Linked DNA regions of Homo sapiens: region 1 is linked to region 2. The links come from fine-mapping of genetic effects on gene expression. A gene starts in region 2. The other region holds a variant in brackets. All regions are shown on one strand. Distances are from middle to middle.

Region 1 (15,215 bases), 43 kb after region 2:
GAAGCCTCACTTTGGGCTGTGACAACGATCCCCAGTTTCCTTTCCTCTATCCTCCTTAGCCGTCCCTTTCATCCTTTCTTCTCCTTCCTGGGCTGTTTGGGCAATTTTTTCTTTCTTTTCTCCTTGGATCTTAAAGACTCCTTCAGTCTCCCTTTCAAACAAAGCAAGCCAGATTTTCTACATACCCTATTTTCCTTTAATCTTACTTGGTTTATAAGAACTTTTCCACGATTAAGTGTTTTCTATTCTTCACATAATAGGAAGAAAAGTCCAATTATAGAACTTGAAGACCAAGGTTTGCTTACATCTGAAGCATCTCAAAACCATTGCTTTACGCAGGACTTGCCCCCAGAAGCCCCGGGTTCCAATCTCAGGTCTACCACATCCTTACTCTGCAGCCCCTGACAATCCACATAACTTCTGTGAGCCTCAGTTCCCTCCTGTGTCAGAGATGACACAATTATTCACTTAATGGTCACAGGGTTGAAACCAGGTGATTTGTATGAAGGCGCCTAGCAGGGTTCTTCACACAGTGTCACTATTTAGTAAGAGTTTTGTCGTTTTCTCACTCAGTCCACCATCTACCTAACCACCATGGTGAAGCATGCTAAAGTGGTTCATGCACCATTTCCCAAAAGGAATAAATTTTGAAATGAACTTTTGGCTGAGTGCATCTGAATGAGTCCTGATCAGTACAAAATACATATTCAGTTCTTGCTATGCACGAAACACTGTTCTAAGCCCTCTTGTCTATAAAAGGAACGCTGATGTTTCCATGTTGCCATAGGAGTATTCTTTGGAAGAAGGAAGGCCGATTCTCTTTGTACAACTCTTCCTAAATCCTTTAAGACAGCAGCAGTGATGATGATATTGACCACTCCCACCATGAGCCTACATGAGGACTACTAAATGTGATTGATGCAGAGGATGCCAAATTGGAAGTCAGGACAATTCCCATTGCTATTCTGATCTTGGACAGCCTGGGTGGCAATTTGCTCTTTGCAATGACAATCCTGTTACTATTTTAATTTCTACTTTATGTGTCTTTCTCCTGCCGTCTTTCCTTTCCTTAACTCACACTCAGGATATTGTGTAAGATTTTAACGTCTAGGAGAGGCCGTTTCACCCCTACCTAAGGGGGAACATAGCGAAGTTGGGAAAAGCACTGGATTGGGGACCAAAGGGTGTGGCTCCAGCCCTGCTTTGACTTCTCTTTGTGCTAATTAGAAAGCCTTTTAACGCCATCTCTAAGGCAAGAGACATAGAATAATCTTTCAATTTCCTTCAGGTTCTGACTAGATGATTCAGATAGCTCTCTTTGGGGTAGCCTCAGTTTACAACAATTATTTGATCAAATTAAATGCTTTTATCTCATTGATTCTTACAATAGCCTTATGAAACAGGCAGCCCCATTTTGCAGATTACAAAATGCAACCTTAAGAGAGAGTAGAACCCCAAGTATTTCTTATTAGTAAAAGGAGAGACTGACTAGATGGTAAGACTCGATTCCCTTGGGGAGCATCACTGAGTTCTCAGACTGAACTCTGAGCTCTGTTCCTACCATGGTATCCCCCTCAAGGCACTTCAAATTGACGACGATGTGAAACCCAAGGTGACACGTTGGTTCTGGGTTTTGTCAGGAGAGATCTGTGGTCCAATTATAATAACCTTACATCCAGACAAACATTTGTTTTAAATATTCTGCTCGAGATTACACCATGAGTTTGTCATCTGGGGCAGAAAATAAGGGCTCTACAGTCCACATAGCCTTTTAATGTGTTCTGAAATGACATTTAAAAATAAATCAAAGCCATCCTAATATAATTATTGGTGATCATTTAAATCCTTACCTCATTAAAGTACTAAGTGCTAGAAAGGAGTATTTGAATTCTATACGTATCTAGAATTTGTGCACATTTTCACATAGTACTACTTTAGCCTTTTTCCTTGTTTTTAATGCAATGATAAATTTCACCATTTAAAAACCCTGATAGGATTACAAGATTAAATACAAAAAATATTGCATAAGACATAAACATACTAAAAAATAATTCGTGGTTTATCTGAAACTCAAACTTAAGGTGTATATGTTTATATTTATAATTTTTATTTGCTAAATTTGGCAATATGATATAAACAGAGCTTTACTTGATCAATGATAGTTACTTAGAGCTTAAGGATATTAGTTTGTTAGGTCTTTAAGCTTCAAACATAAATTACAACCAATCTTTATGAGTTTTTTGTCAATTACACCAAATATTCCTTTAGTTTTATTTATTAATTTTTTTTTTTTGAGATGTTGTCTAACTCTGTCACCCAGGCTGGAGGCCAGTGGTGCAATCTCGGCTCACTGCAACCTCCACTTCCCGGGTTCCAGTGATTCTCCTGCCTCAGCCTCTCGAGTGGCTGGGATTACAAGTGACTGCTACCACGTCCGGCTAATTTTTGTATTTTTAGTAGAGACGGAGTTTCACCATGTTGCCCAGGCTGGTCCTGAACTCCTGATCTCCAGTGATCTGCCCACTTCAGCCTCCCAAAGTGCTGGGATTACAGGCGTGAGCCCAGCCAATATTATATTAAATGTTTATGCTAAGTGACCATCCAGAGACAATCCTGATTACAAAGAACAGATCTATGTTCATTTTACTGTCATATTCCTGAGAGTCCCTGCTAAGAATAGTAATAAAAAGTACCCAAGATTTTAATGTATTTGGAGGAAGATATACTGGGTTTTGGAACCTGGCTCCACATCATACTAGTTCTGACACTTAACCTCTTGCAGCCTCAGCTTCCTCCTTCTTAAATGGGATTCATGATAGGTTAAAAATCCCTACCTCGGGCCTGGCACGGTGGCTCACGCCTGTAATCCCAGCACTTTGGGAGGGCCAGGTGGGCAGATCACGAGGTCAGGAGATCGAGACCATCCTGGCTAACACGGTGAAACCCCGTCTCTACTAAAAATACAAAAAAATTAGCCGGGCATGGTGGCGGGCGCCTGTAGTCCCAGTTACTCAGGAGGCTGAGGCAGGAGAATGGCGTGAACCCGGGAGGCGGAGCTTGCAGTGAGCCGATATCGCACCACTGCACTCCAGCCCGGGTGACAGAGCGAGACTCCGTCTCAAAAAAAAAAAAAAAAAAAAAAAAAAAAAAAAAAATCCCTACCTCAACGACTGAATCACAGTTTAGTGAGCCTCTGCCATGGTTGTACATGGTCAATCCTCCCCAAAGAATTAGTTTTTAAAGAAATAATTGAATATTATTTTTCCTTCAAAAAGTCAATATTATTAGATAATATCAATTAAGATATTATGTATTCTGAAATGACACTTAAACATCAAATATATTTTAGTCATATAATCTATTTTTAAAATTTCATTTAGCAGCTTTGAGATATTCACATACCATACAATTCACTCATATGTGATATTATTTTTATGTAAAATTTTATCTTTGAGAATAATTGAGCTTTTGAAGGCAAACCTAAGACTCTGGGAGATTCTATTTCGGTGCCAGCCTTCTAGTCTCCTGCCTCCACAATTAGCTCTGCCAGTTGACAAGCTAGAATCTGAGGCCAGATAAACTACATACAAAATATGTGTAGTTTTATTATCTGTAAATTGGCTAAAGAGACTAAATTATTCACTCTTTATTGAATACTTTCTGTATCCATAAACCTAAGTAGGAGAGTCAAAGGTGAATAAGATATTCTTGAGCAACTTTCAGCAAAGTAGATGAGAAAGATTTGTATGACACAGAAGGGATTTGGAGCACTGGGGGAATAATTTATATATTTTTCTTATTATTGAAATACAGTATTTTTTCTGTTGTACATTTTACATCGAAATCTTTATTACACACACACAAAAGATCAGTAGCACTCTCCTTTACCTTCACCTTTTGTGCTCTAGAAACTATTTTACGTACATATTTAATTTCAGGATTATATTTAAGGTCTGGTACTGGCTGTGGTGACCCCCGACCTTTCCTGCAGCACACTATGCCAACACAGGTCTTTCATTAATGTCATCCAAAATGCTTGCTGTGCCTTACCTTTAAAGGTCTATTGATTTATAGCGTGAATTCATCCGACTTTTCCATTTTGCAAATATTCTATTTTTAAACCAATTTAGTCTTTGCTGACTCATATTTTCTCCTGAAGTTAGGAGAGTGAGATGATTACTTCGCTGATAATTCCCATGGAGGCGTTCTGTGGGCCTGAAGTCTGTCTGCATTTGGCTCCTTGTTTTTGTAATGATAGCGGCTTTCAAGGGTCAGCTTTCACCATATTCCAGAGGATTTGGCCATGTATGAATTTGGTTGAACCAAAAGGATGAATTTTTCATTCCCATCTTCAGATGAACATGGACCCCATTTCTTAGGAGATCACCAAGGGCAATTCTGCCTCTATTCCTTTCTCAAAGAGCGTTTCTAGGGAAACTCAAGCTGTTCTGCCAGGTGCAGCTGCAGAGGCGTGTCTGTGAACACGGCAGCACTGAAAACTATGAAAAGCGAAGGAATCCTTCAGGGAAGAGGGGCTTTACTAGTCCCAAAGACACTCTTAAACAAACAGACAAGACAGCATATCAGAGGAGATAGAGTATTCGTGTGGTTCCTGATTGTATTTTAACCTCATTCCTGCAGGAGAGGCCTTTCTTGTCCCGTCCTCGTCCTCGGGGACCAGCCAGGTGTTGCTGTCCTAGTTTCTGGGAAGCAGCTTTATCCCCCCTTCTCTCCGGTGCAATTCACTTTGTCACCTCAGGAACTTCTTCACTTCCCACACTCTTCTCCTGCCTCCCTCTGCCAAAAGGCTCTACCTCTGCCAAAGGGCGGCGTTT[A/G]GCTCAGGGAACAGCTCCCATTATTTATACAATAGTTATGATTTAAGTCCCCAGTCTCCTGGCTGTTCCTGTTTGAAACTGTGTAACTCAAAGAACTTTTCCCATCAGTGAGTAAGTGCAGCTGGCATGTTTATCTTCCTACTCCTTAAATGAGATCATATGTACAGTAGTGCCAAGTTTTCCTACTGTGGGTCAAGCCCATATGCCAAAATAGGATATTTTTGCTGGGAAGGCCAAGAGGTCACTGCGTGGCACATCTGCTTGCTAGCTGTGGGCAGTGGCTTGAGGTTCCAAGCTGGGGAGGAGGGGAGCCCCTGTCCCTAACAGCTGCTGGACAGCACTGATTGTTTTGACCCCTGAAGCATGAGAGGAGGTCATGAATCAGTGGGCAGAGAGTATCATGAACACATTTCATGTCACTTCATGTGTTAAAAAATATTAGATCAGCAAAAGTAGTAGCATCTAATATTTGCAAAAACCGTCTGCAGTTGACTAAATGCTGTTAGAACACAGCTCAGTTTGGTGTTGCGGTGATACAGTTCATGGATAAGGCAAGCTGGCCCTGTTTAGGGATGAGGAAAGTTGGGCACAGCGAGATTATGCGATTCTCAAGCCATGGTGAGGAGAAGACCGAAGAATGTTCTCTTCCATCAGGTGGTGCTACTCCCCAAATGGTAGGGTAGAAGCAGCGTTCCTCTTCTGAAAAGAAAGAGAAGGAGGAAGAAGGAAATGAGGTTTGAGGGGGTGAAAGGAAAATATCTTAGGCCCCCAAAATCACTAAGGAAAACTCAACCCAGGAACTGCTTAGGGCAAACCTGCCTCCCATTCTATTCAAAGTCACTCCTCTGCTCTCTGAGATAGATGCATATCTGATTTGCCTCCGTTGGAAAGGCTAATCAGAAACTCAGAAGAATGCAACCACTTGTGTATCACCTGTCTGACTCACTTCCAGTCTTCTTGCTTTTGCTTCAAGTTGTCCCCCCTTTCCAGACCAAACCAATGTACTTCTTTTTTTTTTTTTTTTTTGAGACGGAGTCTCACTCTGTCACCCAGGCTGGAGTGCAATGGCATCATCTCAGCTCACTGCAACCTCCACCTCCCGAGTTCAAGCAATTCTTCCATCTCAGCCTCCCGAGTAGCTGGGATTACAGGCACCCACCATCATGCCGGGCTAAATTTTGTATTTTCGTAGAGACGGGGTTTCACCATGTTGGCCAGGCTGGTCTTGAACTCCTGACCTCAGGTGATCTGCCCGCCTTGGCTTCCCAAAGTGCTGGGATTACAGGCGTGGGCCACTGCACCTGGCCTGTACTTCTTACATATACTAACTGATGTCTCATGTCTCCCTGAATGTATAAAACCAAGCTGTGCCCTGACCACCTTGGGCAAATGTCATCAGGACTTCCTGAGGCTGTGTAAGGGGTGCGTCCTCAACCTTGACAAAATAAACTTTATAAATTAACTGAGACCTGTCTCAGATTTTCTGGGCTCACTGAAGTCCTATACTTGTGTCAGGCACTCAGTCGTGGGGAATAAGTAAGAGCTGGGAGCCACCGGGATTTAAACGAAGTATGGGCTGTTGCTGGACTCTTCTGGACACCAGTTTCCTTCTCTGTATAATGAAATTCACAATTCCCTACCAAATCACTAGGCTGTTATGAGACTGAAATAAGATCATCCCTATGAAATCACTTTAACAAATCTAAAATACCATGCCCCTGCAAGGTAATCTTATTGTATTGCATTTTAATTTTACTACCAGTATCATTCCAATTGTATAAAAATTTTGTATATACTAATATTCTCTGCCTTGTCACACAGACCCCCGGCGGCCATGCTCTAGCTCATAGGCACGAGCCCACTCCCGCAGGGAGTCAGGCGGGGTGGAGCTTCGGGGCCCCAAGTCCAGCACCCACCTGAGATCTTCACACCCTGAGCAGAGCAGTCGGGGCAACTTAACTGGGCACCAAGTGGGCAAAAATGGCGCCTTCCCCACCACATGTGCAGAAGGGTGAATTCCTGGATGTTGAGGGGTGGGGGCACAGAAACTCCCTGCCCGCTCTCCCCAGGAAGAGGGCAGGGCCCATGGGGACAAGGATTCCCACCTCTTCCCCACCACCATGGACATAAGGCCTTAGTGGACACCAAGGCCCCAGCACGACATCAGGCCCCAAACGACACTGGACTCTAGGTGGACACTGGACATCAGACACCAGGTTGATGCCAGGCCCTAGTCAAGTGGACTCCAGTCCCTGCATAAACATCAGGTCCCAGTTTGGCACATAGGCCCCAGGTGGACACCAGGCCCCTGGTGGATGCCCAGGTTAATACCAGGCCCCAGGTGGACACAAGGTCCCAGGTACATTCAGGTCCCGGGTGGAAACCAGGCCCCAGATGGACATCGGGCATCTGTATGTCAGGTCCCAGGTGGACACATAGGCCCCAAGTGGATGTCTAGTCCCCAGGTAAATACCAGGGCCAAGGTGAACAGGAGGCCCCAGGTGGACACCCTGACCCCAGAGGACCATCCAGCTCGAGGTGGACGTCAGGCCCCAAGTGGACACCAGTGTCCAGATGGACATCAGGCCCCAGGTAGACACTCGACTTGAGGTGTACACCAAGCACCAGGCTCACGCCCAGGCCCCCGATGGATACAATGAAACAACAGGTTCCATTCAGTGATATAATAAAGCACATCCCAAAGCTCCTTCACCCATATCTTCATGATAATTAACTGAGCTGGATAGTCACATGTTCATATATAGGCCTAATAACCTCAGAAATGTAATTGTTTAGATTCTACAAAACCTGTGTTTGGACTTGTTTAATGGAAACTCAGGTTCCATTCAGTGATTTAAAACAGCACATCACAAAGCTTCTTTGTACATAGCTTGGTTTTCGTTATTAGTACTGGACGTTCATATGTTGATATATAGGCCTGATAGCCCCTGAAATGTCATATCTGAGATTCTACAAAACATGTGTTTGGAACTTGCTTCATGGAAACACAGGTTCCATTCATTTATATAAAACAGCACATCAGAAAGTTTCTCCTCACATAGCTTGTTTTTCATTATTAGGGCTGAAAATCTATGTAGGTACAATAGTCTCTGAAATCTCATTTCCTTTTTTTTTTTTTTGAGACAGAGTTTCCCACTTGTTGCCCAGGCTGGAGGGCAGTGGCGTGATCTCGGCTCGCTGCAACCTCCGCCTCCCGGGTTCAAGTGATTCTCCTGCCTCAGCCTCCCAAGTAGTTGGGATTACAGGCATGCGCCACCATGCCCGGCTAATTTTGTATTTTTAGTAGAGCCGGGGTTTTTCCATGTTAGCCAGGCTGCTCTCGAACTCCCGACCTCAGGTGATCTGCCCGCTTTGGCCTCCCAAAGTTCTGGGATTATAGGCGTGAGCCACCATGCCCGGCCTGAAATCTCCTTTCTTAGATTCTCCAAAACATATGTTTGGAAATTGTATAATGGAGATTCCAGTTGCATTCAGTGATATAATAAAGCACATCAGAAAGCTTCTTCACACATAGCTTGTTTCTAGTTATTAGTAGTGGATATGTGTATATTCATATATAAACCCAATAACCTCTGAAATGTCATTTTTGTAGATTCTACAAAACATGTTTGAAACTTGTTTCATAAAAACACAGGTTCCATTCAGTGATATAAAACAGCACATCACAAAGCTGTTTTTAGTTATTAGGGATGGATACTCGTATATTCATATATAGGATAATATCCTCTGAAATGTCATTGCTTAGGTTCTAAAAAATGAGTGCTTGTAACTTGTTTAACAAAAACACTGGTTCTTCTCATTCATATGAAATAGTACATCCCAAAGCTCAAAGCTTCTTCACACATAGCTTGCTTTTAGTTATTAAGGCTCCGTATTTTTATATATAGGCCTAATAGTTTATATATAGGCCTAATAGCTTCTGAAATCTCATTAATTAGATTCCACAAAATGTGTGTTTGGAACTTGTTTAATGAAAACTCACGTCCCATTCAGCGATATAATAAAGCACATCACAAATGTTCTTTGCACATAGCTGTTTCTAGTTATTAGGGCTGGATATTAGTAGGTTCATATAGAGGCCTAATAATCTCTGCAATGTCATTACTTAGATTCTACAATACGTCCTTTTGGAACTTGTTTAACAGAAATGCTTGTTCCATTCAGTGATATAAAACAGTGCATCCTAAAGCTTCTTCGCACATAGATTGTTTTTTGTTATTAGTGATAGATAGTTGTATATTCATACATAGGCCTAATAGCCTATGGAATGTCATTCCTTAGGTTCTAAAAAATGTGTGTTTGGAACTAGTTTAATAAAAACACAGGTTCCATTCAGTGATGTGAGACAGCACATCACAAAGCTTCTTCACAGATTGTTTCTAGTTATTAGGGATGGATATTCGTATATTCATATATAGACCTAATAGCCTCTGAAATGTCATTCCCTGGGTTCTAAAGAACGTCTGCTTGGAAGTTGTTTAATAAAAACACAGGTTCCATTCATTGATATAAAACAGCAAATCACAAAGCTTCTGCTCACATAGCTTGTTTTTAGTTATTAAGGCTGGATTTTCATATGTTTATATATAGGCCTGATTGCCTCTGAAATCTCATTAAATAGGTTCTACAAAACGTGTTTTTACAACTTGTTTAATGGAAACTCACATTTCATTCAGTGATATAATAAAGCACATCACAAATGTTCTTCGCACATAGCTTTTTTCCAGTTAATAGGTCTGGATATTCATATGTTCATATATAGGCCTAACAATGTCTGAAATGTCATTGGTTAGATTCTACAAAACATGTTTCTAGTATGTGTTTAACAGAAACACAGGTTTCTTTCAGTTATATGAAACACCAAAGGCTGAGGCAGGAGAATGGCGTGAACCCAGGAGGCAGAGCTTGCAGTGAGCCGAGATCGTGCCACTGCACTCCAGCCTGGGCGACAGAGTGAGACTCCGTCTCAAAAAAAAAAAAAAGAAACACCACATCACAAAGCATCTTTGCACACAGACTGTTTTAGTTATTAGAGATGGATATTCAAATATTCACATAAGACCTAATAGCCTCTGGAATGTCATTCCTTAGGTTTTATAAAACGTGTGTTTGGAACTTGTTTAATAAAAACACAGGTTCCATTCATTCAGTGATCTGAAATACCACATAACAAAGCTTCTTCATGCACAGATTGTTTTTAGTTATTAAGGATGAATATTTGTATATTCACATGTGGGCCTAACAGCCTCTGAAATGTCATTCCTTAGGTTGTATAAAACGATAAAATGTGTGTTTGGAACTTCTTTAATAAAAACACAGGTTACATTCAGTGATATAATAAAGCACATCACAAAGCTTCTTCTCACATGGCTTGTTTTTAGTTATTGGGCTGAATTTTCATGTTTATATATAGGCCTCTGAAATCTCATTTGTTAGATTCTATAAAATGTGTTAGGAACTTGTTTAATGAAAAGTTACGTTCCATTCAACAATATAATAAGGTACATCACAAAGCTCCTTTGCACATAACTTTTTTCTAGTTAGTAGCATGTTCATATATAGGCCTAATAACCTCTCAAACGTTGTTACTTAGATACTTAGATAATACACCATAGGTGGACGCCCAGGCCGTAGGTAAATACTAGGCCCCAGGTGGAAACCAGGCCCCAGATGGATATCAGGCATCTCGGTGCATGTCTGTTCCCAAGTTGACACATGGGCCCCCGTTGAACACCAGGCCCCACTTAAACTTCAGGCCTCAAGTGGATGTCCAGGCCCCAGGTAAATACCAGGGCCACAGTGGACAGGAAGCCCCAGGTAGACTACAGGCCCCAGGTGGATGCCTAGGCCCCTGGTGAACACCACGCTCCAGGTAGATACCCTGACCCCAGGGCAACATCCAGTTCCCAGTGGACATCAGGCCGCAGGTGGATGCCCAGTTCCCATGTGGACATCAGTCCCCAGGTCAACATCAGGCCCCAGGTGGACACTGGACTTAAGATGTATATCAGGCACCAGGCTCACATCCGTGCCACAGCAGGACACAATGTCACAGGTGGACAGCCATCCCACAGAGGATACCGAGGACTCAGACGGACGTTCAGGCTCAAGGGGAACATAAGACACTATGTAGGCAACAGGCCTGGGTGCATATCAGACCCCAGGTAAATACTCAGGTTCCAGGAGTACAATAGGCTTGAGGTGGATACCCAGGTCCCTGGTAGATACCCAGTCCCCAGCTGAATGTCAATCCTCATGGGACGGCACACTCCACAGGGAAACTAGGTGCCAAGTAAATGCCTAAACCCCTGGTGAATATCAAGCCCCAGGGGTATACCTAGACCAGAGCTGGACATCTGGCCCCAGCTGGACATCCAGGACCCAGGTGGATATCTACACCTCAGGTTGACATCAGGCCCCTGGAGAACACCAGGTTTCAAATGACCACCAGGCCTCAGGTGGCTATGGAAGCCACAGGTGGATATCAGGTACCACGCTCACACCCAGGGCCCAGGCGGACACAAGGCCCCAGAGGAACAACAGGCCCAAGGTGGACAAAGGCCCTAGGTGCACACCAGGTCCTAGGTGGATACCCACACTTTAGGTGGACACCAGGCCCCAGGCAGACACCAGGTGCCAGGAGGATACCCAGGACTCTGGTGGACATTAGGCTCCTGGTGGACACCAACACCCAAGTGGATGTCAGGCCCCAAGTGGGCACTGAGGCCCCAGGTAAATACCCAGGTCCCTGGTCAAAAACAGGTCCCTGATGGACAATCCGGCCCCAGGTGGACATGAGGCCTCAAGTGGACACTTGACTCCAAATGTCTTGGGTGGACACCACTCCCCAGGTGGATACCTGGGCTCCTGATGAACATCAGGCCTCAGGTTCAATCTAGGTCCCATGTGAACATCCAGGCCCAGGAAGTCCTCAGGCACCGGGAAACACTCAAGCCCCAGGTGGACATCCAGTTCCCGACTGACACCAAGGCCTCAGGTGGACACTAGGCACTAGGAGAACTTCAGGGCCCAGCTGAAATCAAGCCCTGGGTGAATACCCAGGCCCTAGCTAAATACCAGGCCCCAGATTTACATTGGGCCACAGGTGGACATTAGGCCCAAGGTACACACTGGATTCTAGGTAGACTTTAGTCCCCAGATTTACATTGGGCCACAGGTGGACATTAGGCCCAAGGTAGACACTGGATTCTAGGTAGACTTTAGTGCCCAGATTTACATTGGGCCACCGGTGGACATTAGGCCCAAGGTAGACACTGGATTCTAGGTAGACTTTAGTCCCCAGGTTCACAGTCACACCTCAGGAAAATACCAGGCCAGGCCCCAGTTGACTGTCAGACCCCATCTAGACACCAGTCCCCACATAGATAATCTATGCCCCATCTGGACATCAGGTTCCAGGTAAACACCAAGTCCAAGATGAAGAGCAGGCCCCAGTTGGGTATCTAATCCATAGGTGGACATGGGGCACCAGATTGACACACAGGCCCAACGTGGATACCCACACCACAGGTGGACATGAGGCCCCAGGTACATACCCAGTCCCCCGGTGACTATCGGGCCCTAGGTGAACACCAGGTCCCAGATGAACATCAGGACCCAAATGGATACCTAGGTCCCTGGGGAACATCAGGCTCCAGGTGGACACCAAGGACCCATGTGGGCAGCTAGGCCCAGAGTGACATCAGGTTCCATGGGGACACCCAGTCTCCAGGTGGATACTGCGTCCCTAGGGGTACACACCAGTCCTCAGTGACCGAATGGTCACATATTCTCTGGCCAAATGCAATAAAATCACCTCCCCAAAGAATATATATTCTTTAAAACTGAAAACTACATTTCTCAATCATTCTGAAGATAAGGAACTCGCAACAGAATGCTGAACACACACAGAAACGATGAAACTCCCACAACCAACACGAGTGCAATGCTGCTCAACTAGTCCGAGAGCAAGACCCACCACAGGCTTTGCATAGAAGACGCACAGATTCGAATGGAAGAAAATGTGGGACCCGAAATTGCAATATAAGAAAAGAGAAAAAGGCAACCACGCACACCAAGAAATCCAAGAAGTAAAGGGTGACATGGAGACATAACACGCCCGGTTTCCCAAGAAACATTAGGAACCACATTGCGAAATGAAATGGCAGGCCCCATCAAGCCCTGTTGAGACTCTGAACTGCAGGCCTCTCCTAGACGGCCTCTAGGCCTACAAATTGCTAAGGCCACCCTTAACACGTCCTACCCACCTTGTAGAAATTCCCCACCACTAGGAAAAGACACTAAAACCCATGTTGGTCCCGAGCTTACCCTGCCAGAGCTTACCTTGCCGAAGCTTCCCGCAGTCCCTGGGTGCCACTAGCTGGCTCTGTGGCTTCCTTGGAGGGCCTGTGGCCTAGGCCCGGTCCCCTCTCTCAGCTCCCGTGCCTGTCCGCCCATGACCCCAGAGGGACGGGCCCCTGGTTCCCTGGCGGAGCTGCCCTGTCGGCTCACACAGGCGCCGGACGGCCGCGCTCTTGCTCCCAGGCACCAGCCCACTCCCACGGGCAGTCGATTGTGGCACTCTCTGGGGCCCCAAGTCCTGCACCTGCCCCAGATCTTCATGCCCTGAGCAGAGAAGCGAGAACATCTTACTCAGCACCAACTGGGCCAAAATGGCGCCTTCCGCACCACGTGTGCAAGAGGGCAAGTTTCCCGTGGTGGGGGAGGGGGCACAGAAACTCCCCACCTACTCTCCTAGGAAGAGGGCGGCGCCCATGGAGACAAACCCATGGGCACCTTGATAGTCACAAATGCAATGCTAGATCAAAAAATGATATTCTGGTCAGGCACCCTGGCTCAGGTCTCTAACCTCAGCACTTTGGGAGGCTGAGGCAGGGGGATCACTTGAGGTCAGGAGTTTGAGACCACCCTGGCCAACATGGTGAATCCCCTCTCTACTAAAAATACAAAAATTAGCTGGGCTTGGTGGCAGGTGCCTGTAAGCCCAACTACTCAGACAGCTGAGGCAGGCAAATCACTAGAACCCAGGAGGCGGAAGTTGCAGTGAGCAGAGATCAGCCACTGCCCTCCAGCTGGAGAGACAGAGCAAGACTCCATGTAAGGTAAAAAAAAGAAATGGGTGCTATACTGAAGCACTCAAATGTGGAAACATCAGATGAGAATTTATATACAAGGGAAACAAACATATATGTCTAAAAATCTTGTATAATGTTAAGCATATAATTATTAAGGAACAAAAAGCACTTCTGTAGTTGAAAACAGTAAAAATTAAGTTGAACTAAATGTATATTACTATTTCATTACAAGCAGAGATAGTCTTTGTATTATATTTAAATGAAGGTATTATCCATATGAAAGATAAATATAAATTAGAGCCTGTTCCCCAATTTCTGCTTTTCTCTTAGGTTGTTTCTTTTTTTATTTTCAAGAGTTCTTTCTATATTCTGAACACAAAACTTTTGCTGATTGCTGTGTGGCAAATATCTTCTATTTTATATAGCTTGCCTTAGGTGAGCAGAAATTCTTAATTTTAATGTAACTTGAATTTTTTTTTTTTTTTTTTTGAGACAGAATCTTACTCCCAGGCTGGAGTGCAATGATGCAGTCTAAGCTCATTGCAGACTGCCTCCTGGGCTCAAGTGATCCTCCCACCTCAGCCTCCCTAGTAACTGTGACTACAAGTGCGTGCCACCATGCCTGGCTAATTTTTGTATTTTTTGTAGAGATGGGGTTTTGCTGTGTTGCCCAGGTTGGTCTCAAACTCCTGAGCTCAGGGGTTCCGCCTGCCTCAGTGTTCCAAAGTGCTGGGATTACAGGTGTGAGCCACCGCACCCGGCCTTGTAGTTTGATTTTAACAATCCTTTCCTTGAGGGTTACTGCTTTCTATTTGTTTTTAAAGGAATTCTTATTTACCCTGAAGCCATAAAGATATTGTGTTCCACTTCCTTCTAAAATTTTTAAGGTTTGATTTTCTCACTTATGTGCTTAATCATCTAGAATTGATACTTGTGCACAGTATGGGGTTCAGATAAATTTTCGTGCTTGTTTCCATATAGTTAACCACTTGCCCCAGTAACATTTTTGGAATGGCCCAGCTTTCCCCCACTAAACCCTGCTGATACCTCTCTCATGTATCAGGTTCTCATTAATGCAAGGGTCTGTCTCTGAGCCTTTTACTCTCTTTGATTGTTCCCATGCGAATGCCACATAATTATTATGGTTTCATGTTAAAGCTTAATATCTTCTAGAGCAAGTCTTCCCTCTTCTTCTTAAGTAGTGTCTTTGGTTATTGTGTTTTTATTCTGCAAGGTTGCTGGGGTTTTGATTCAAATTGCTTTG
Region 2 (15,215 bases):
ACAAATGGCAACCAGGTATTTGAAAAGGTGCTCAACATCATTGATCATCAGAGAAATGCAAATCAAAACTACAATGAGATATCATTTCAGACACACTAGAATGACTATAATAATAATTTTTAAAAGGGAAATAATATTGGCAAGGATGTGGAAAAATTGGAACTCTAATAAATTGCTGGTGGGTATATAAAATGGTACAACCACTGTGGAAAACAGCTGGTTCCTAAAAAAGTTAAACATACAGTTCTCATATATAACCCAGCAATTCAATTCCTAGGGATATAGCCAAGAAAATGAAAATGTATGTTCACACAAAAGCTTACATTTTAATGTTCACAGTAGCATTATTCATAATAGCCAAAAAGTGGAAACAACTCAATTGTCCACTAACAGATGAATGAATAAATAAATTGTGGTCTATCCACACAAAGAAATACTATTCAGCCACAAAAAGGAATGAATTACTGACACATACAACAATGTGGATGAACCTTGAAAACACTATGCTGAGTAAAAGACGTCAGACAAAAAAGGCTACATGTTGTAGCCTTTTATTCCGTTTATATGAAATGTTCAGAATGGGCAAAACTATAAAGAAACAGAATAGATTAGGAAGTGTTCAGGGCTGATGGCCGGGAGACTGGGCAATGGCTGCCCAAGAGTATGAGATCTCCATTTGGGGTGATGAAAACATCCTGGAATTAGATAGTGCTTTTGGTTGCACAAATTGTGAATATGATACACTGAGAACCACTGAATTGTGCACTTTAATTTTTTTTTTTTTTGAGATGGAGGTTCTCTCGTGTTGCTCAGGCTGAAATGCAGTGGCACAATCTCAGGTCACTGCAACCTCCACCTCCCGGGTTCAAGCGATTCTCCTGCCTCAGCCTCCCAAATAGCTGAGATTACAGGCATGCACCACCTGCCCAGCTAATTCTGTATTTTTAGTAGAGACGGAGTTTCACCATGTTGGTCAGCCTGGTCTCAAACTTCTGACTTCAAGTGATCCACCCGCCTCGGCCTCCCAAAGTGCTAGGATTACAGGCGAGAGCCACTGTGCCCTGCCAATTGTTTGTACACTTTAAAATGATAATTTTATGATACGTAAATTGTATCTTAAAAAACAAGGGAAAAAATACGTAGAAACAGTTTAGACATGCATTATCTTCTGTGAATAGCATTGTCAACAATCCAACATAAATTAATTAAAAAACAAGAATCAGGCTCATTTTTTACAATAAAAGCTTTTGATATTTTTATACATGCTGTTTATTCAAAACTTATAGGTTTTCTATATGGGAAATTACAATTCCTTTCATAACCTTTTGTTTAGTTTCAATGGTAGAATGACACAAATATTTTAATGTAAAAATGATTGGCTACTTTAATTGCCTATACACACACTTTCAATAAGTATGTACCATTTTTGTAATTCTTGTCTTTTTTTCTATTTTAAATTTGTTCTGATAACATTGATTGAAATATAATATTTTGTCTAGGGGCCGGGCACGGTGGCTCATGCCTGTAATCCCAGCACTTTGGGAGGCTGAGGCGGGCAGATCACGAGGTCAGGAGATTGAGACCATCCTGGCTAACACGGTGAAACCCTGTCTCTACTAAAAATACAAAAAATTAGCCGGGCTTGGTGGAGGGCGCCTGTAGTCCCAGCTATTCAGGAGGCTGAGGCAGGAGAATGGCATGAATCTGGGAGGCAGAGCCTGCAGTGAGCTGAGATGGTGCCACTGCGCTCCAGCCTGGGTGACAGAACGAGACTCCATCTCAAAAAAAAAAAAAAGAAATATAATCTTTTGTCTCTTGAGTCTGGTAATAAAACATTTGGGCTTGTATTTTGTGTGCCTTTGCTTTTTAAATTTTATTTTTCTAGTAATTTATTTCTACTATATTTTAAAAAGTAACCTTCTGCAATGGATTTGAAATTTTAACACAAAAGCTGGTCCTTCACCACAGATGCTTTGCGAAGCACTTGTGTGGGGCACCTGGATGTGGACGGAGTACTCTGTAATAAATTATCTACAACAGAAGATTTACATCTTCCTAGGTAAATGTGTGAAATTCCTTCATTCTTTATCTTTTGTAACAGTGACAATGTTGACCTTCCAGATGCTCTGGAAGGGTGGGAAAGGGAGGGGTGACTGGCAGGGCTGTGACATAGTGGTGTACATATTCCATCATTCCCTTTGCTTCGCTCCTTCTCTTTCAGGTCTCCAATAGAGGAGGCTGGCTCCTTCTTACAGAGCCTCCAACAACGATTATATTCTGGGCTTCAGCATCCTTCGCTTGCCTGTACATTAGCTTTCTTATTTTATTTTATTTTATTTTATTTTATTTTATTTTATTTTTGAGACAGAGTATTGCTCTGTCATCCAGGCCGGAGTACAGTGGCGCGATCTCGACTCACTGCAACCTCCGCCTCCTGGGTTCAAGCAATTCTCCTGCCTCGGCCCCCCGAGTAGCTGGGACTACAGGCACACCCCATCACGCCCGGCTAATTTTTGTATTTTTAGTAGAGATGGGGTTTTACCACATTGGTCAGGCTGGTCTCGAACTCCTAACCTCAGGCGATCAACCCACCTTGGCCTCCCAAAGTGCTGGGATTATAGGCGTGAGCCACTGCGCCAAGCTTGTACATCAGCTTTTTGTCCTCTGGAAATGTGTTGAAATTTCTTGTCTACTGATACCCTTCCATGCTTTTTTTGTTGCATGAGTTTATTCCTCTTTGTATTTCTACGTTGTCATTTCATTGGGGTCTCAGGAGGGACACGAGGTAAACACATATGTTCAGTATGTCATCCTGAACTAGAATAGCCAGGTTTTGGTTATGGAAAATAATAATGCTGAATGTTTTTTGTCTAAGCATACATTTTCATTTCTCTGTGTAGATATTTAGAAGTGGATGTATTTAACTTACTGAGTCACTGACAAACTGTTTTCCAAAGCGACTGTATCTTTTCTACATTCTCACCAGCAATGTATAAGGATTCCAGTTCCTCTAAATCTTTACCAGAATTCAATATTTTCAGTTTTTCTGATTAGAGACATTCTAGTATGTGTGTCATAGTATCTCAGTATGGTTTTAGTTCGCATTTCTTTAAGCACTGATAATGTTGAGCAACTTTTCATATGCTTATCTGCTATCATAATATATTCTTTGGTGAATTATCTGTTCATATCTTTTGCTCAACATTTTGAATTGTCTTTTTTTAATGGAGTGATAAGAGTTCTCTATTCTGATGCAAGTCCTTTTTCAGACACATGATTTGCAAATATTTAGTCTTAGCTTGAGACTAAACTTCGCATTTTCTTTTTTCTTTTTTTTTTTGGAGACGGAGTCTCGCTCTGTTGCCCAGGCATTACAATAATAAATTTCCCAATATTAAACCATTCTTCAATTCCTAAAGTAAATTCTATTTAGCCTACTCTTTTAATATGTGGTTAAAATATTTTTATAATATTTTGTGATTTTACACCTATATTCATAAAAAGATCATAGCTTCGCGTCTTTTTAAAGGTTTTTATCTTTTGTTATTAAGATTGTTCTTGCTTCATAAAATGAACTCAATAATTGTCTTTGTTTTTTCTCTATGTTTTAGTACAGCCTGAATAGCCTATGAATGATGTATTATCACAGAATTTAAAGACATTTACTTCTAAAGCCCCTTAAGTCTAAAATCATGGTTCTCAAATCTAATTGCATATTAAAATCACCTGGAGAGCTTTAAAAACTCTCAATGCACAGGCCACACCCCTGATAAAAGAATTCAGAATCTCGGATGTAAGGATTTTTAAATGCAAAATAAAATGAAAGGCTCAATAGTTTATAAAGTTTGTGCTAGATCTAATCTTTTCTGGTTTTGTCTGTAATTGGTCCAATAGTAAATATTGATTCATCTGTAATTGTTCTGACATCAACTAATGGTGTCCATAGCAATAGCACTACAAGCCAGTTTCTCTGCCTTTATCTCGCTTTAATTGTACACAAAACTAATAAGGCAAAGCACGTAATATAATAACTATTTTAAAAGCAAATGAAACAAACTTTGGAAGGTTAAGTGGCAAAGCCGCTTGACTCCCATCACTTTGGCATTTCAATCAATAATAGAGTCTAAAGACCAAACAATAAAACAATGGTTAACATAGAAAAAAAGAAATACGAGTTCATTAACTAACCAGGAGATCTTATTTCCAAAGAGTAAATCTGATTACATTGTTCCTGTTTAAAACCCTTCAATGGCTTCCTTATGCCTAAAAGGAAAAAAAAAATCCAAATTCCTTTGTGTGGCATAAGAGGTTCTTTGTGTAACACAAGATCTGGCCCCTCATCACCTCTCCAGTCGTATTTCTCAAAAGACCTCTCTTGCTTCCTATACTCAGTCATGCAAAATGTTCTGCAATTCTCTGAATGCCCTGGCTTTTCTTTTCCTTTTTGTGCCCATGTCTGTGCCCAAGTTATTTGCTTTTTCTGAAAGATCTATCTTTCAAAACCTTCTTTTCCCTCCCTCCCTCCAACCCTGTTGACCAACTTATCTTTTAAAGTCTGATTCAGTTTCAGGGCCATCTCCTCCGAGACCTTCCTTCCTGACTGCTTCTCGAGTTCCCCTATAAAACAGTGACTGCCCAAAGAGCAGCAACAGTTTGTAAATCATTCCATTCATGCTGCCTAGAACAAAGCTGCAGTTGTGTTTAGTAAAGGTTTATCAAATGGATGAAGACTGGTCACTATTAGTCTTGACCCCTTCTATTTGAAATATGTGAAATACACAAAGTAAAATATAATTTCTGATAGGGGCTGATATCAGGAACTGTAGGAGATCTGTCCATTGAACCCAAGGTCTTACCTATTAAATCTCTACTGTTGCCAGTCTGCGCTCCTGGATTTTCAAGGGGCTCCGTGGAATTGGGAGGCTGATGAAGCTGGTGACCACCCTCCGTAAGCATGCTGTGTTGGTGATTCCAGTGCTTACTCCTTTCCTCAAATGTGGTCATAAGAAGTCAGGAAAGTCAATATGCTTTCACTAGGAAAAAAGGAGGAAAGCCTGCTTTAGTTGGTTGTTACATTTTTGATGAGGCGAAAATTCAAACAAAACTGTAACCACAAGGACCATTAATTGTTCTTTCCTGCTAATAACCATAGTTAGCCAATTGGATTGTGAGTGTGTGGCATGCTTGTATTGTGTATGTGAGTAGGGAATGCACGTGCGTTAAAGTTCACATGTGCTTAAGAGCTTAGACACACCCGCAATTTGCAAGACAGCTTCATGTCCTGATGTGGCCAAAGCTGTGTAAGAAGCCTGAGCTGTAATTACTCCGCACAAATTTACATCCTGGGGTACTCACATCATCCTGTGGTCTGTATGCTCTGTGGCTACACACCTGGCTGAGAACAGAATTAATGATGAGAAACGTGCCTGCTTCTCTGCATAAAAGATGATGTCTGAGTAGAAGGTCGCCAAGGGAGGATTAAGAGCAAGAATGCGAGAATGTGCTCAGGAATCCGTGCGTGAGATGATGAGCTTGTGAGCTGATGTTGATTCTGTGCAGTTCCCAGTGTCTTATTCACAGGCAAGATTTTCTTGCTCATCGTTCAGCCTTCAATGTTTTAAGCAAAGATTTTTAAAAAGATCTAACAGGAAACGAGGAGCTGCAGTGAAGCTTGGGCAGTCAGTTCGAATCTGAATAAATATTTGTCAGATTGGAGAAGCGCTGAAAGCATTAAGATACTTGGAGATTTCTCTTTTTCTTTGGCAAGAAGCATGACTGAGACAGGTAAGGGCTAGGAATTCTTCCGGATCACTCCCTCCAACAATGGTCTTTCCTTTGAATTTGCACTTTGGAGTCTGACACAGATTAGTGCTTCCTAGTCCTCTAACTGTAACACATGCCTCAGTTTCCCTTCTCCGATAAGATTGCAATATCTTTGGGTGCAGGAAAAAAAATAGTTGATCCTTTTCTTTGTAGCCCAGCAAGTTCCAGGCACATTAGAAACTGATTAGAAACTGGTACACAAGTGTTACTTGCTTAATTTATTATAAATGCTTTAAAAATGAGGCAATGACTATCATTGAAAAATAAAACCAAACTGTGAAGAACTTCTCTCTTCCTGTTAGTGGAGACTTTCCACAGAATTTTTTTTTTTTTTTGGGAGGCAGTGGACATGTTGAGTTTTCAATTGAATATTTTGCTGCAAACAACTTAGGAGGAGAGGAAAAAAGAAAACGCAAAGCCAAACAAAGCTGGTATTTTTCAAGTGCTCATTAATTTCAAAACCACGGTGTCTTTCATTGATTTTTTACCATTAAAAAGGACAGCAATGCCCATCTGCTCAAAATTCCATCCAGAAATGAAATTATGAATTAAAGCTGTGTTACACATGCACAATTGAGACATCCTCTGTTTGGGCCTGCCAGATGACACACTGAAACAGCCTGGGGTCTGCACTTGGGGTGCTGCCAAGGAAGCAGATACACGGCTGATGAAAATCATCCATCATTTCAAATCAGAGGTGCCATATTCCTGCAGACTCCTGTTATGAACAATCTCATTTGATCTTACATTGGAACAAGCTGTCTTCAACACTCAGGCCTGGCCCCAGGCACAACGAGGCAGATGGAATAGGAATCTCTCATTCCATGCCTGCATTTGCCGGAATTCTAGGATTTTGTCAGAAGTTTTCTTGTGTGAACCTAGCCTGACAGGATTAACTTCACTGAGTTGTGCTTCAATATCAGTTCTTACCTCCTTCAATTTGTGCCAAAACTCTCATGGAGGACAGTGTTCATCATTTTTTCACTTAAAACCATATATATGAGTCATTATATAGAGCGATTCTTTTTAGATTCAGTTTCCGGGAAAAAAATTAAAAAGTCACATGATCTTTCTGTCTGCTAATGATATTATGCACGTTGCTCTTGTCTCTATTTTTGCCTTGGCCTCCAGGAAGCTCACAGCCACGTTTTACACTCAAATACAGAAATAATATTACCATATGCTAGTATTACCGTATTTGTGATACTCTTTTCTGTTGATCCTTAGTTTCCATTTCCATTCTTCTTTTATTAAGCCTAACACGTTTTTTGTTGTAAGCTATATCAAAATCATTTTGGAGAAAGGCCAGGCTTATATAAATGATAAAGCATAACCATCTTTTATTTCCCAGCCAAGTGGTTTGTGTTTTAGAGTATATACTTTTAGAAGAAACAGATTGTTTCTTTAAACAGATGAAAATCAAATATCTTCCTTCTTCATGAAGTTAACCACGGTTAGATCATCCACATTGATACAGATGCCTGATAAAAGATCAGGATTGCGTTTGACAACCAGGTTTCTCTTACACATTCTCAGCAGCTTTCAGTCTCTGAAGTTTTTAGTCTTCTTTATTTACTACATTAATCTTGAGAGTAAACAAGGTTCTTATCAAAAATTAATATTTTAATATTAAAAGAATTTATTAGAAAATAATTTATTTAATCTTTTAATATTTAAAAGATATTAAATAAGTTTACAAAGACAACAGCAACTAAGAATGACCATGACTGAATAGAGCAAAACTGTACTAAAATACAACAAATAAAATAAAGGAATATATCCGTGAAATGTTAAGAAAGGCACTGGCCCAAATAATCAGTACTGAGACTCCATCTTGGGTTTGCTTTAAAGCCTCTAGCATGAAGCTGATGGCTGCCCAGTCATCTCAAGGGGCAGCACTGTCCCTTAGGAGCTTACAGTTGAAGCCGACTAGGCAACCCCTAGCCTTGGGCAGAGCTGAAACTCAGCACTTACACACAGGACTGATGTTATAACTCGGAACACAGACTCCTCAGTTTCCTTTGATGCTTTTTTTCTGAGGGCCACTCACATCCGTCTTCTGTCTTCTTTCATGATCCTATCTTAACAATCATGTAAACTCAATCCTTTATCAGACACTCAACAGAAGCAGACTTTGTCAATTACTGGTGGAGAGAGTGTCCTAAAGAAGCTATCCATGAAAACAAGGGTGACCCGGCAGGCTTCACGAAGCCTTCACGAAGCCAGAGGGCAGGGGACATCCACCCTCACTCAGGACACCCTTGGGGCACTCTGTGCATCACCCCGCACAGCTGCTACTAATTAAGCCCTTCTGGGCACCATGTGTTTCCGTGACCTGCTCTTCCTGTGTCTTGTACTCATAATTTTTTCCCATCACATCACATGATCCTGCAGTTTCGGGACAATGCTGACTTCCTCTGCCATCCTCCGCAGCACACAGTGGGGCTCCTGCCACCCCGGGCCTTCTTGTGTCCTAGCTGAGCTGTGGACGGCCCTGCTCTCCCACCGGATCCTCCTGGGTCATGGAAGGATTCTTTGGAGACATGATCAGCTTCCTTACCCACCACCTGTGTGCCTTGGGCAACTGGAGTTCTCAAGCTCCAAGGCCTTCGTTTTCTCAGCTGCAAAATGAAGAGACTGGAACAGCCTCCTGTTTTGAAGAATCCCACCTGAGTTTATATCAGAACAATCTGAGATAGATATATAGATATAGATATATATCTTTTTACATTTTTTAAATGTTCTTTCCCCCAAAACCATGTCCTTTAAGTGGAGGAATCTATTTTTTAAAAATGATGTGGTTGTGCCCTCCAGTGGTTGAGCGTGAAGTCATCAGGCTGTTCGGGTGACAGCAGGGCTCGCAGGAAAGCGCAGGCCGTGCTAAACCGCCGAAGGACGAAGGTGGGTCTAAAGATAGATGAATCTGCTACTCCGGAAAGCACCGAATCGCCGTGTAGACCGGTCACCAAGTATAACTGCGAGCCCCAAGGCGTCACCAGCATGGGCATCCCAGCCTCGGTGCTTCAAGTCCTACTTCTGCTTGGCTATCGGGAAAGGCACGGCTTCGGGGCCACTTCTAGGCTCTCAACACGCGGCCGCTGCTGGGAATCCTGGCGGCCGCGGCTCTTCGCTCTCCAGTGGACCCAGTACTCCGAGAAGCCGCAGAGGCCTGGCCGCTGCAGCCTGCTCCCGACACCCGCTGGTCCGCCCCTCCCGCTCGGCTGCAGGGCTGGGGCGCCCACAGGCGGCAGCCGTCAGCCCGCGCCCGGAGGAAGCCCACGGCCGCCCCGGCTCCCCGCCCGCAGACGCAGCTGCGCAGCCTAGCGGGCTGGGTAGCGGGACAGCAGCGCACGCTGCCCGCTTCCGCTCGCTCCCCCGCGGGCCCTGCTCGATCGTCAGGGTTGCTGCAGGCGGAACTGGAGGAATAAACGCAAAGCCCCAGCCCCTCGTGAATTTCAGGGCCCCTCTCACGTGCAGGGTGTTCCCGCTTATTTCCAGACTCCTTGGATGCAAAACAATGAGTGAAGAACTGACAGTGAAGGCGGAGGGACTTACCTAAGTTATGCAATGATAAATAAATGGCAGATGAAAAATGGGACCTTTGGTTTCTAGTCAAAGTCCTTAGGAAGCGATTCGGCAGACGCAGGCCCAGGTGGCGAGGAGAATGGCCCCTTAGCCAGCTTTTAGGGTTCCGTGAGGGCTGAGCTAGGAGGGAGAGAAAAGGTTAAAGACCCTTCCGGTCCTTAGCATCACCACGAATGAACGTTTACCGAGCACTTACTTTATAAAGAGCACTGTGATAGATGCTGGGGAATATTCAGAGGAATAAATAGGACAATCTCATTTTCCAGGTCTACATTCACTGGAAGGGTCCCCTCCTGCAGGAACTCATTACTGGTCAACCACTGTGCCCTGTATGAAATCTACATGCTGTAGATTTCAGACATGTTTTCTGCCTCCGAGAGATTTATATGCTAGCAAACAAAAAAAGACATATATATAAGGAGATAAATAATAGCCAAGATATTTTTTGAAAAGTATTTGGGGTAAAAATACACATAAAAACATTTACCATCTTAATCATTTGTATGTGTCCTCTTCAGCAGTGTTAAGAACATCCACACCATTGTGCAGCCACACTCCAGAACACTTTTCATCTTGTAAAACTGAAACTCCACAGTCATTAAACAACATTTTCCCATTCCCCTTCCCCTAGCTCCTGAAAAACCACCATTCTACAGATGCTCCTTGACTTATGATGGGGTTAGGTCCAGATAAACCCACAGAAAGTTGACAATGCATTCCATGCCCCTAACCTACTGAACATCACAGCTTAGCCCAGCCTACCTTAAACGTGCTCAGAACACTCACAGTAGCCTACAGTTGGGCAAAATCACCTAACATAAGGCTTATTTTCCAATAAAGTACAAAATATCCCACGTAATGTATTAAATACTGTACTAAAAGTGAGAAGCTCTAATAGTAAGTGCTCAGTAAATGCTCAGAATGGTTCTATGGTGTATTAGTGTGTTCTCACACTGCTGATACAGACATATGGGAGATTGGGTAATTTATAAAGGAAAGAGGTTTAATTGACTCACAGTTCCACATGGCTGAGGAGGCCTCACAATCATGGCAGAAGGCAAAGGAGGAGCAAAGTCACATCTTACATGGCGGCAGGCAGGCAAGGCAGGCAGGCAAGACAGAGCTTGTGCAGGCAAACTCCCATTTATAAAACCATCAGATATCATGAGACTTATTCACTATCATGAGAACAGTATGGTGGAAACTGCCCCCATGACTCAGTTATCTCCACCCTTGACATGTGGGGATTATTACAATTCAAGGTGAGAATTCAAACCATATCATATGGGTACTCAAAGTACAGTTGCTACTGAATGCATACTGATTTTTCACCACTGTAAAGTAAAAAAACCATAAGTCAAGCCATCTTACGTTAAAAATGGTTTGTACTTTGTCTCTATGAATTAGACTATTTTAGGTACCTCATATAAGTGGGATCCTACAGTATTCGTCCTTTTCTGTCTGGCTCATTTAACTTACCATCTTCAAGTTTCACTCATGTTGTAGCACGTGTCAGAAGTTCCTTTCTTTTTAAGGCAGAATAATATTCCATTGTCTGTTTATAGCGCATTTGTGTATCCATTCATCCATCGATGGACACTCGGGCTGCCTCCACCTTTTGGCTGTTGTGAATAATGCTGCAGTGAACATGAGTGTGAAAGCAAACATTTTCAATATTAGTTGGAGTGTCTGCTTTCATTTCTTCTGGGTATACATCCAGAAGACTCTATGGTAATTCTATGTTTATTTTTTTGAGGAACCACCACACTGTTTTCCCTAGTGGCTGTACACTTTTGCATTCCTACCAACAGTACACAAGGGATCCCAAGACATCATTTTCAACCTTAAAAAAAAAAAAAAAGCGGTTTCAGGTTCACAGAAAAGCTTCACAAAGAGTACAAAGAACACCCATATTCCCCAGTTGTTAGTATTTTACCACATTTGCTTCATCAGCTTTTGTCTTTATTTACAGACATATTCATTTTTGGCTACGATGCCCATCATCCCTAAATACTATTGTGTGGATCTCCCTAAAGCGAGGGCACTCTCCTATGTAACTACCACACAGCCCTCCCAACCAGGGCGTTGACGTCAATTCTGCATCATCTGGGCCTCAGACCCCATTCACATTTCACTGACTGTCCCAAAAATGTATTTCCTTTTTTTCCTTTTTGGTCCAAGATCAGAATCATGTGTTGCACTGAGCCGTCACATCTCATCAGTTTCCTTCCATTTGGAACAGTTTCTCAGTCTTTCCCTCTTTCATGTTTGTATTGGTTTGTTCTGGCTGCCATAGCAAAGCACCACAGCCTGGGTGACTTAAAGAACAGAAATGTATTGTCTCACAGTTCTGAAGACCAGAAATCCAAGTTCTAGATGTCAGCAGGTTTGGTTTCTTCTGAGGCCTCTCTCCTTGGCTTGCAAATGGCCATCTTCTCCATGTGTCTTCCTGTGATCTCCCCTCTGCGTGTGTCTGTTTCCTCATCTCCTCGTCTTAGAAAATCACCAGTTATATCAGATAAGGACCCACATCAATGGCTCGATTTTAATTTTAACTTAATTGCCCCTTTAAAGAGACTATCTCTGAATTATAGTCATATTTTGAGGACTGAGAGTTAAACTTCAACATATAAATTTTTGAGGGGGACATGATTCAGCTCATAACAGTGTTCTCGAGAGTCTTAAAAGGTACAGGCCCTTCAGAGTGTAAAATGACACATACAGAGATAACACTCTGATGTTATCTCACGTCTAGACTCAGTCCACACATCTTGGCAGGACTACCTCAGAAGTTATGCTGTGTTCTTTTCAGGAGCAGGAGCCAACATTTTTCAATTGACCAAGTTGGTGTCTGCCAGTTCCTTCATGATAAAGTCACCATCTTGGACTTTGTATTTGATTAGTGTTTGGGTGGAGAGATTTAATGTCATGTCAGTATCCTGTTCTTTTGTCAAACCTTCACGGGTATCCTTAGCATCCAGTTAGGCTTTTGAAGTTAAGAGAGGGGAAGGAAAAGTGGAAAGAGAAGAAAAGGTGGAAAGAATAAAGTTTAAAAAAAATGTTAAGATAGCATTTTAAGGTACTTAACTGGAATGTTTAAAAGGGGAGACCAGTAACCTTCTATTTTCAGTTCCTTGTTTTTCTTGTAGCTTTGCCTAGGATGGCTACAGTAATGCTTACATAAATCAAAAAAATGTGCTCTAAAAGAGAAATTTAACTGAACAAAATCTCATTAGTAATGATAATTCAGCAGATTTTTTTTTTGAGAGTTTACTATGGGCTAAGGTTTCTCTAAGTATCAGTTCTTTTCATTCCAACTGCAATTAGATGAGGTGGCATTATTGTAATTTCTGTCTTACAAGTGAGTAAATCGAAGTATAAACATTCCAGGGTCCTACAGCTAATAAGCCTCCTTGGAGTCTCTGGGTCTAAAGCCTGTGATTGTAATCATTACCTATATTGCTATCTGGGCACAACGCAGCTACTAGTATCTGCAGTGGTAGAGATCTGAGGTCCTACATGCTCCAAAGTTGAGTTCATTTCTACATTTAGTGTCAAAATGACGAAGTGGTTTCCAAAATTGGAAAATGAGTTTCCATTCCCTCTTCTAATTAGAATTTTTAAAATGTTTTCTTTGTTTTGTTTTTCAATTTCCAAATTTTGTTTTTCAGAGGAAGTAATGCCTTATCTTTCATTTCACTTAGCTAGCTCAAGGAGAGGACTGAATTCTTTTTTTGGAATACGCAATGACCTGAATATGCAGTGTAAGAGTCAGTAGCAACAAGTGCAAGTCAGTGAAACAATTAGTTTCATAAACACAAAACATGGCCTGGCCAGCAAGGGAGGGCCTGAGTGCAGTCTTTAGCACGTCCACACACCACAGGGCAAGATGTTGGACCAACCCTATTTTTACCTAAGACCGGGAGGAGAGCAAATATCTCCTGAAACTGGCTAATTTTCCAAGCCAGGAGCTTTATACAGTCTAAACGACCATGTGAAGTTAGCATTTTTACCTTCATTTTGTGACAAGCAAAGTGTGGTTCAGAGAGATTAAGGAGACAACCGTAGGTCAGTGCTGGAGCCCAGATGTGAACCCACATTTGTCTGGCTATCTCCAAATCTCATGTTCTTTTTATTTATATCACACTGACTGCTTTTCGGTGAGTGATATCCCACTAAGAATTGAGACTGATTCTCAACTCCCCCAAAGCCATGTGCCAGGCTCTCCTGGAATGTGGTCAGCATTCGATGGGTGGGAATGAGGTGCCCAGGATTGAAGGTGCTGCTGTCAGGGAGGACCCCAGCTGCACTCACAGCTGTGTGACTTGGGTATGTTCCTCAGGCCATGTGTTCACCATTGTGCTCATCATAAAATAGGGATTATATCATCTGACTCATAGAGTGAAGGGGATTAAATGAGATAGTTCATACCACATGCTTAAGACAGGGCGTTGCAAATAGTAAGTGCTCAATAAAAGTCAGCAATTATTAATTTATTATAACTAACTGGTCTGGTTAGACTGCTGATTGAATTATGAATTTGGAAAGCTGTTCCATGAGGGTTACAGAACAGCCCTATCCTATTCAACGGCTTAAAAGGGACTTGAGTATGTGTATGGCATACATACTCTTTACATTTAGGATGATGGTAGCTTGGATGGTAGGGTCAGATACCCAAAGCCTGGGAATCTGGAGTAGTATGCAGCTAGACTGTGTATAGATGCCTTAAAAAATCCACCATCAACTCAGTGGCTTAAACCAGCACTCATTATTGTCAGCTGATCTCAGCTCTAGGCTGGGGCACTTGAGCTGGGGCACCTGTGCTCCATGTGTCTCTCAGCCTCCTCTCAGGGCACAGCGGCCATCCCAGACACAGCCTTCTCATGGTGATGGCGGAAGCATATGCATCCAAGTCCAGTCATGGAAACACTGTTCAGGGGTGTATGATCTCATAACTCTTAACTTTCCATTGGCCAAAGCAAGTCACATGGCCATGGTGAAGGCTGGAGAATGACACCACCCTGCAGAGTGAGGGCTCTGCAAAGCTAAGCAGGACAGAGTGCACGGAAGAACTGGGACCATTCGTGCAGTATAATATAGGCTGGATTCAAGCAGGTGGATACATTTAAGATTTTTTGTTTTTGTTGCTTATGTCCAAATTTTATCCCAAGAAGACAAGCCTAAGCAACAGCAACTGTAGGAAGGAAGTGGTTGACGCTATGTTTCCTAATAGGTAAGGAGACCATGCAATTGTCATCCAAACTAGGACATTCAAGAGTAAAACAAGAGCATCATTAACAATTCAGCCAGGACAACAGGCATATTGGAGACTGTCCTGGGCAAAGTGAGACCTGCGATCACCTAATGTGTAGCTTAACATATTGCTATGGACATCATGTGCTCAGGCTGAATTACTGGGTGTATAACACTAGAGGATGAAGAAGACAGTTGTGCTCTCCTTAGTGCTGGGCTGGCCATACCTAAAGTATTGTCTTTATATTCGAGTTTTCAAACTAACTGCTCTGTTTAGAAGAGAGGTGAGGGTGCTGTGGGGTGTAGAAACTTTGTCAAATGACTCTTGATGCAAGGAACAGAGCATATTTGTGAGAAATAGGAAATGCTTATGGGACACTTGACATCTGTGGTCAACTATATGAAAGTCTGTTGCAGAAAAGAGGAATTAGACATGCTTGGTATTATTGCACAGGATAGACCTTAGACCAATGGTTCTAAAAAAAGAATATTGAAATCTGAATCAGAAAAATTATATCTTATTTCTACTTACCAGCTGTGTGACTGGCTAAGCC

Direction of the effects. Positions count from the first base shown, and alleles are read on the strand shown. Sizes are in standard deviations (SD) of each study's normalised expression.
For the expression in aorta of the gene that starts at base 6,035 in region 2, G is the low allele of the variant in region 1 and A is the other (small effect, 0.31 SD a copy in GTEx).

Evidence for each region. PIP is the estimated chance that this variant, and not a neighbour inherited with it, causes the effect. A credible set is the group of variants that fine-mapping cannot tell apart.
Region 1: its variant is the best candidate, but not a certain one, in a credible set for the expression of LINC00327 in aorta (GTEx, PIP 0.76).

The regions. Positions count from the first base shown.
Region 1 is chr13:23,417,286-23,432,500 of GRCh38, reverse strand. All of the region lies in intron 1 of SACS (sacsin molecular chaperone), which reads left to right. SACS-AS1 (SACS antisense RNA 1) reads right to left here and starts at 13,530. Exons shown (of 2, transcript NR_103450.1): 1 at 13,200-13,530; 2 at 3,632-5,534. The variant A/G (reference allele first, on the strand shown) is at 4,836.
Region 2 is chr13:23,460,332-23,475,546 of GRCh38, reverse strand. LINC00327 (long intergenic non-protein coding RNA 327) reads right to left here and starts at 6,035. Exons shown (of 3, transcript NR_038995.1): 1 at 5,356-6,035; 2 at 4,857-5,033. RefSeq lists enhancers at 8,705-8,864, 14,174-14,343, 14,873-14,922 and a silencer at 8,975-9,254.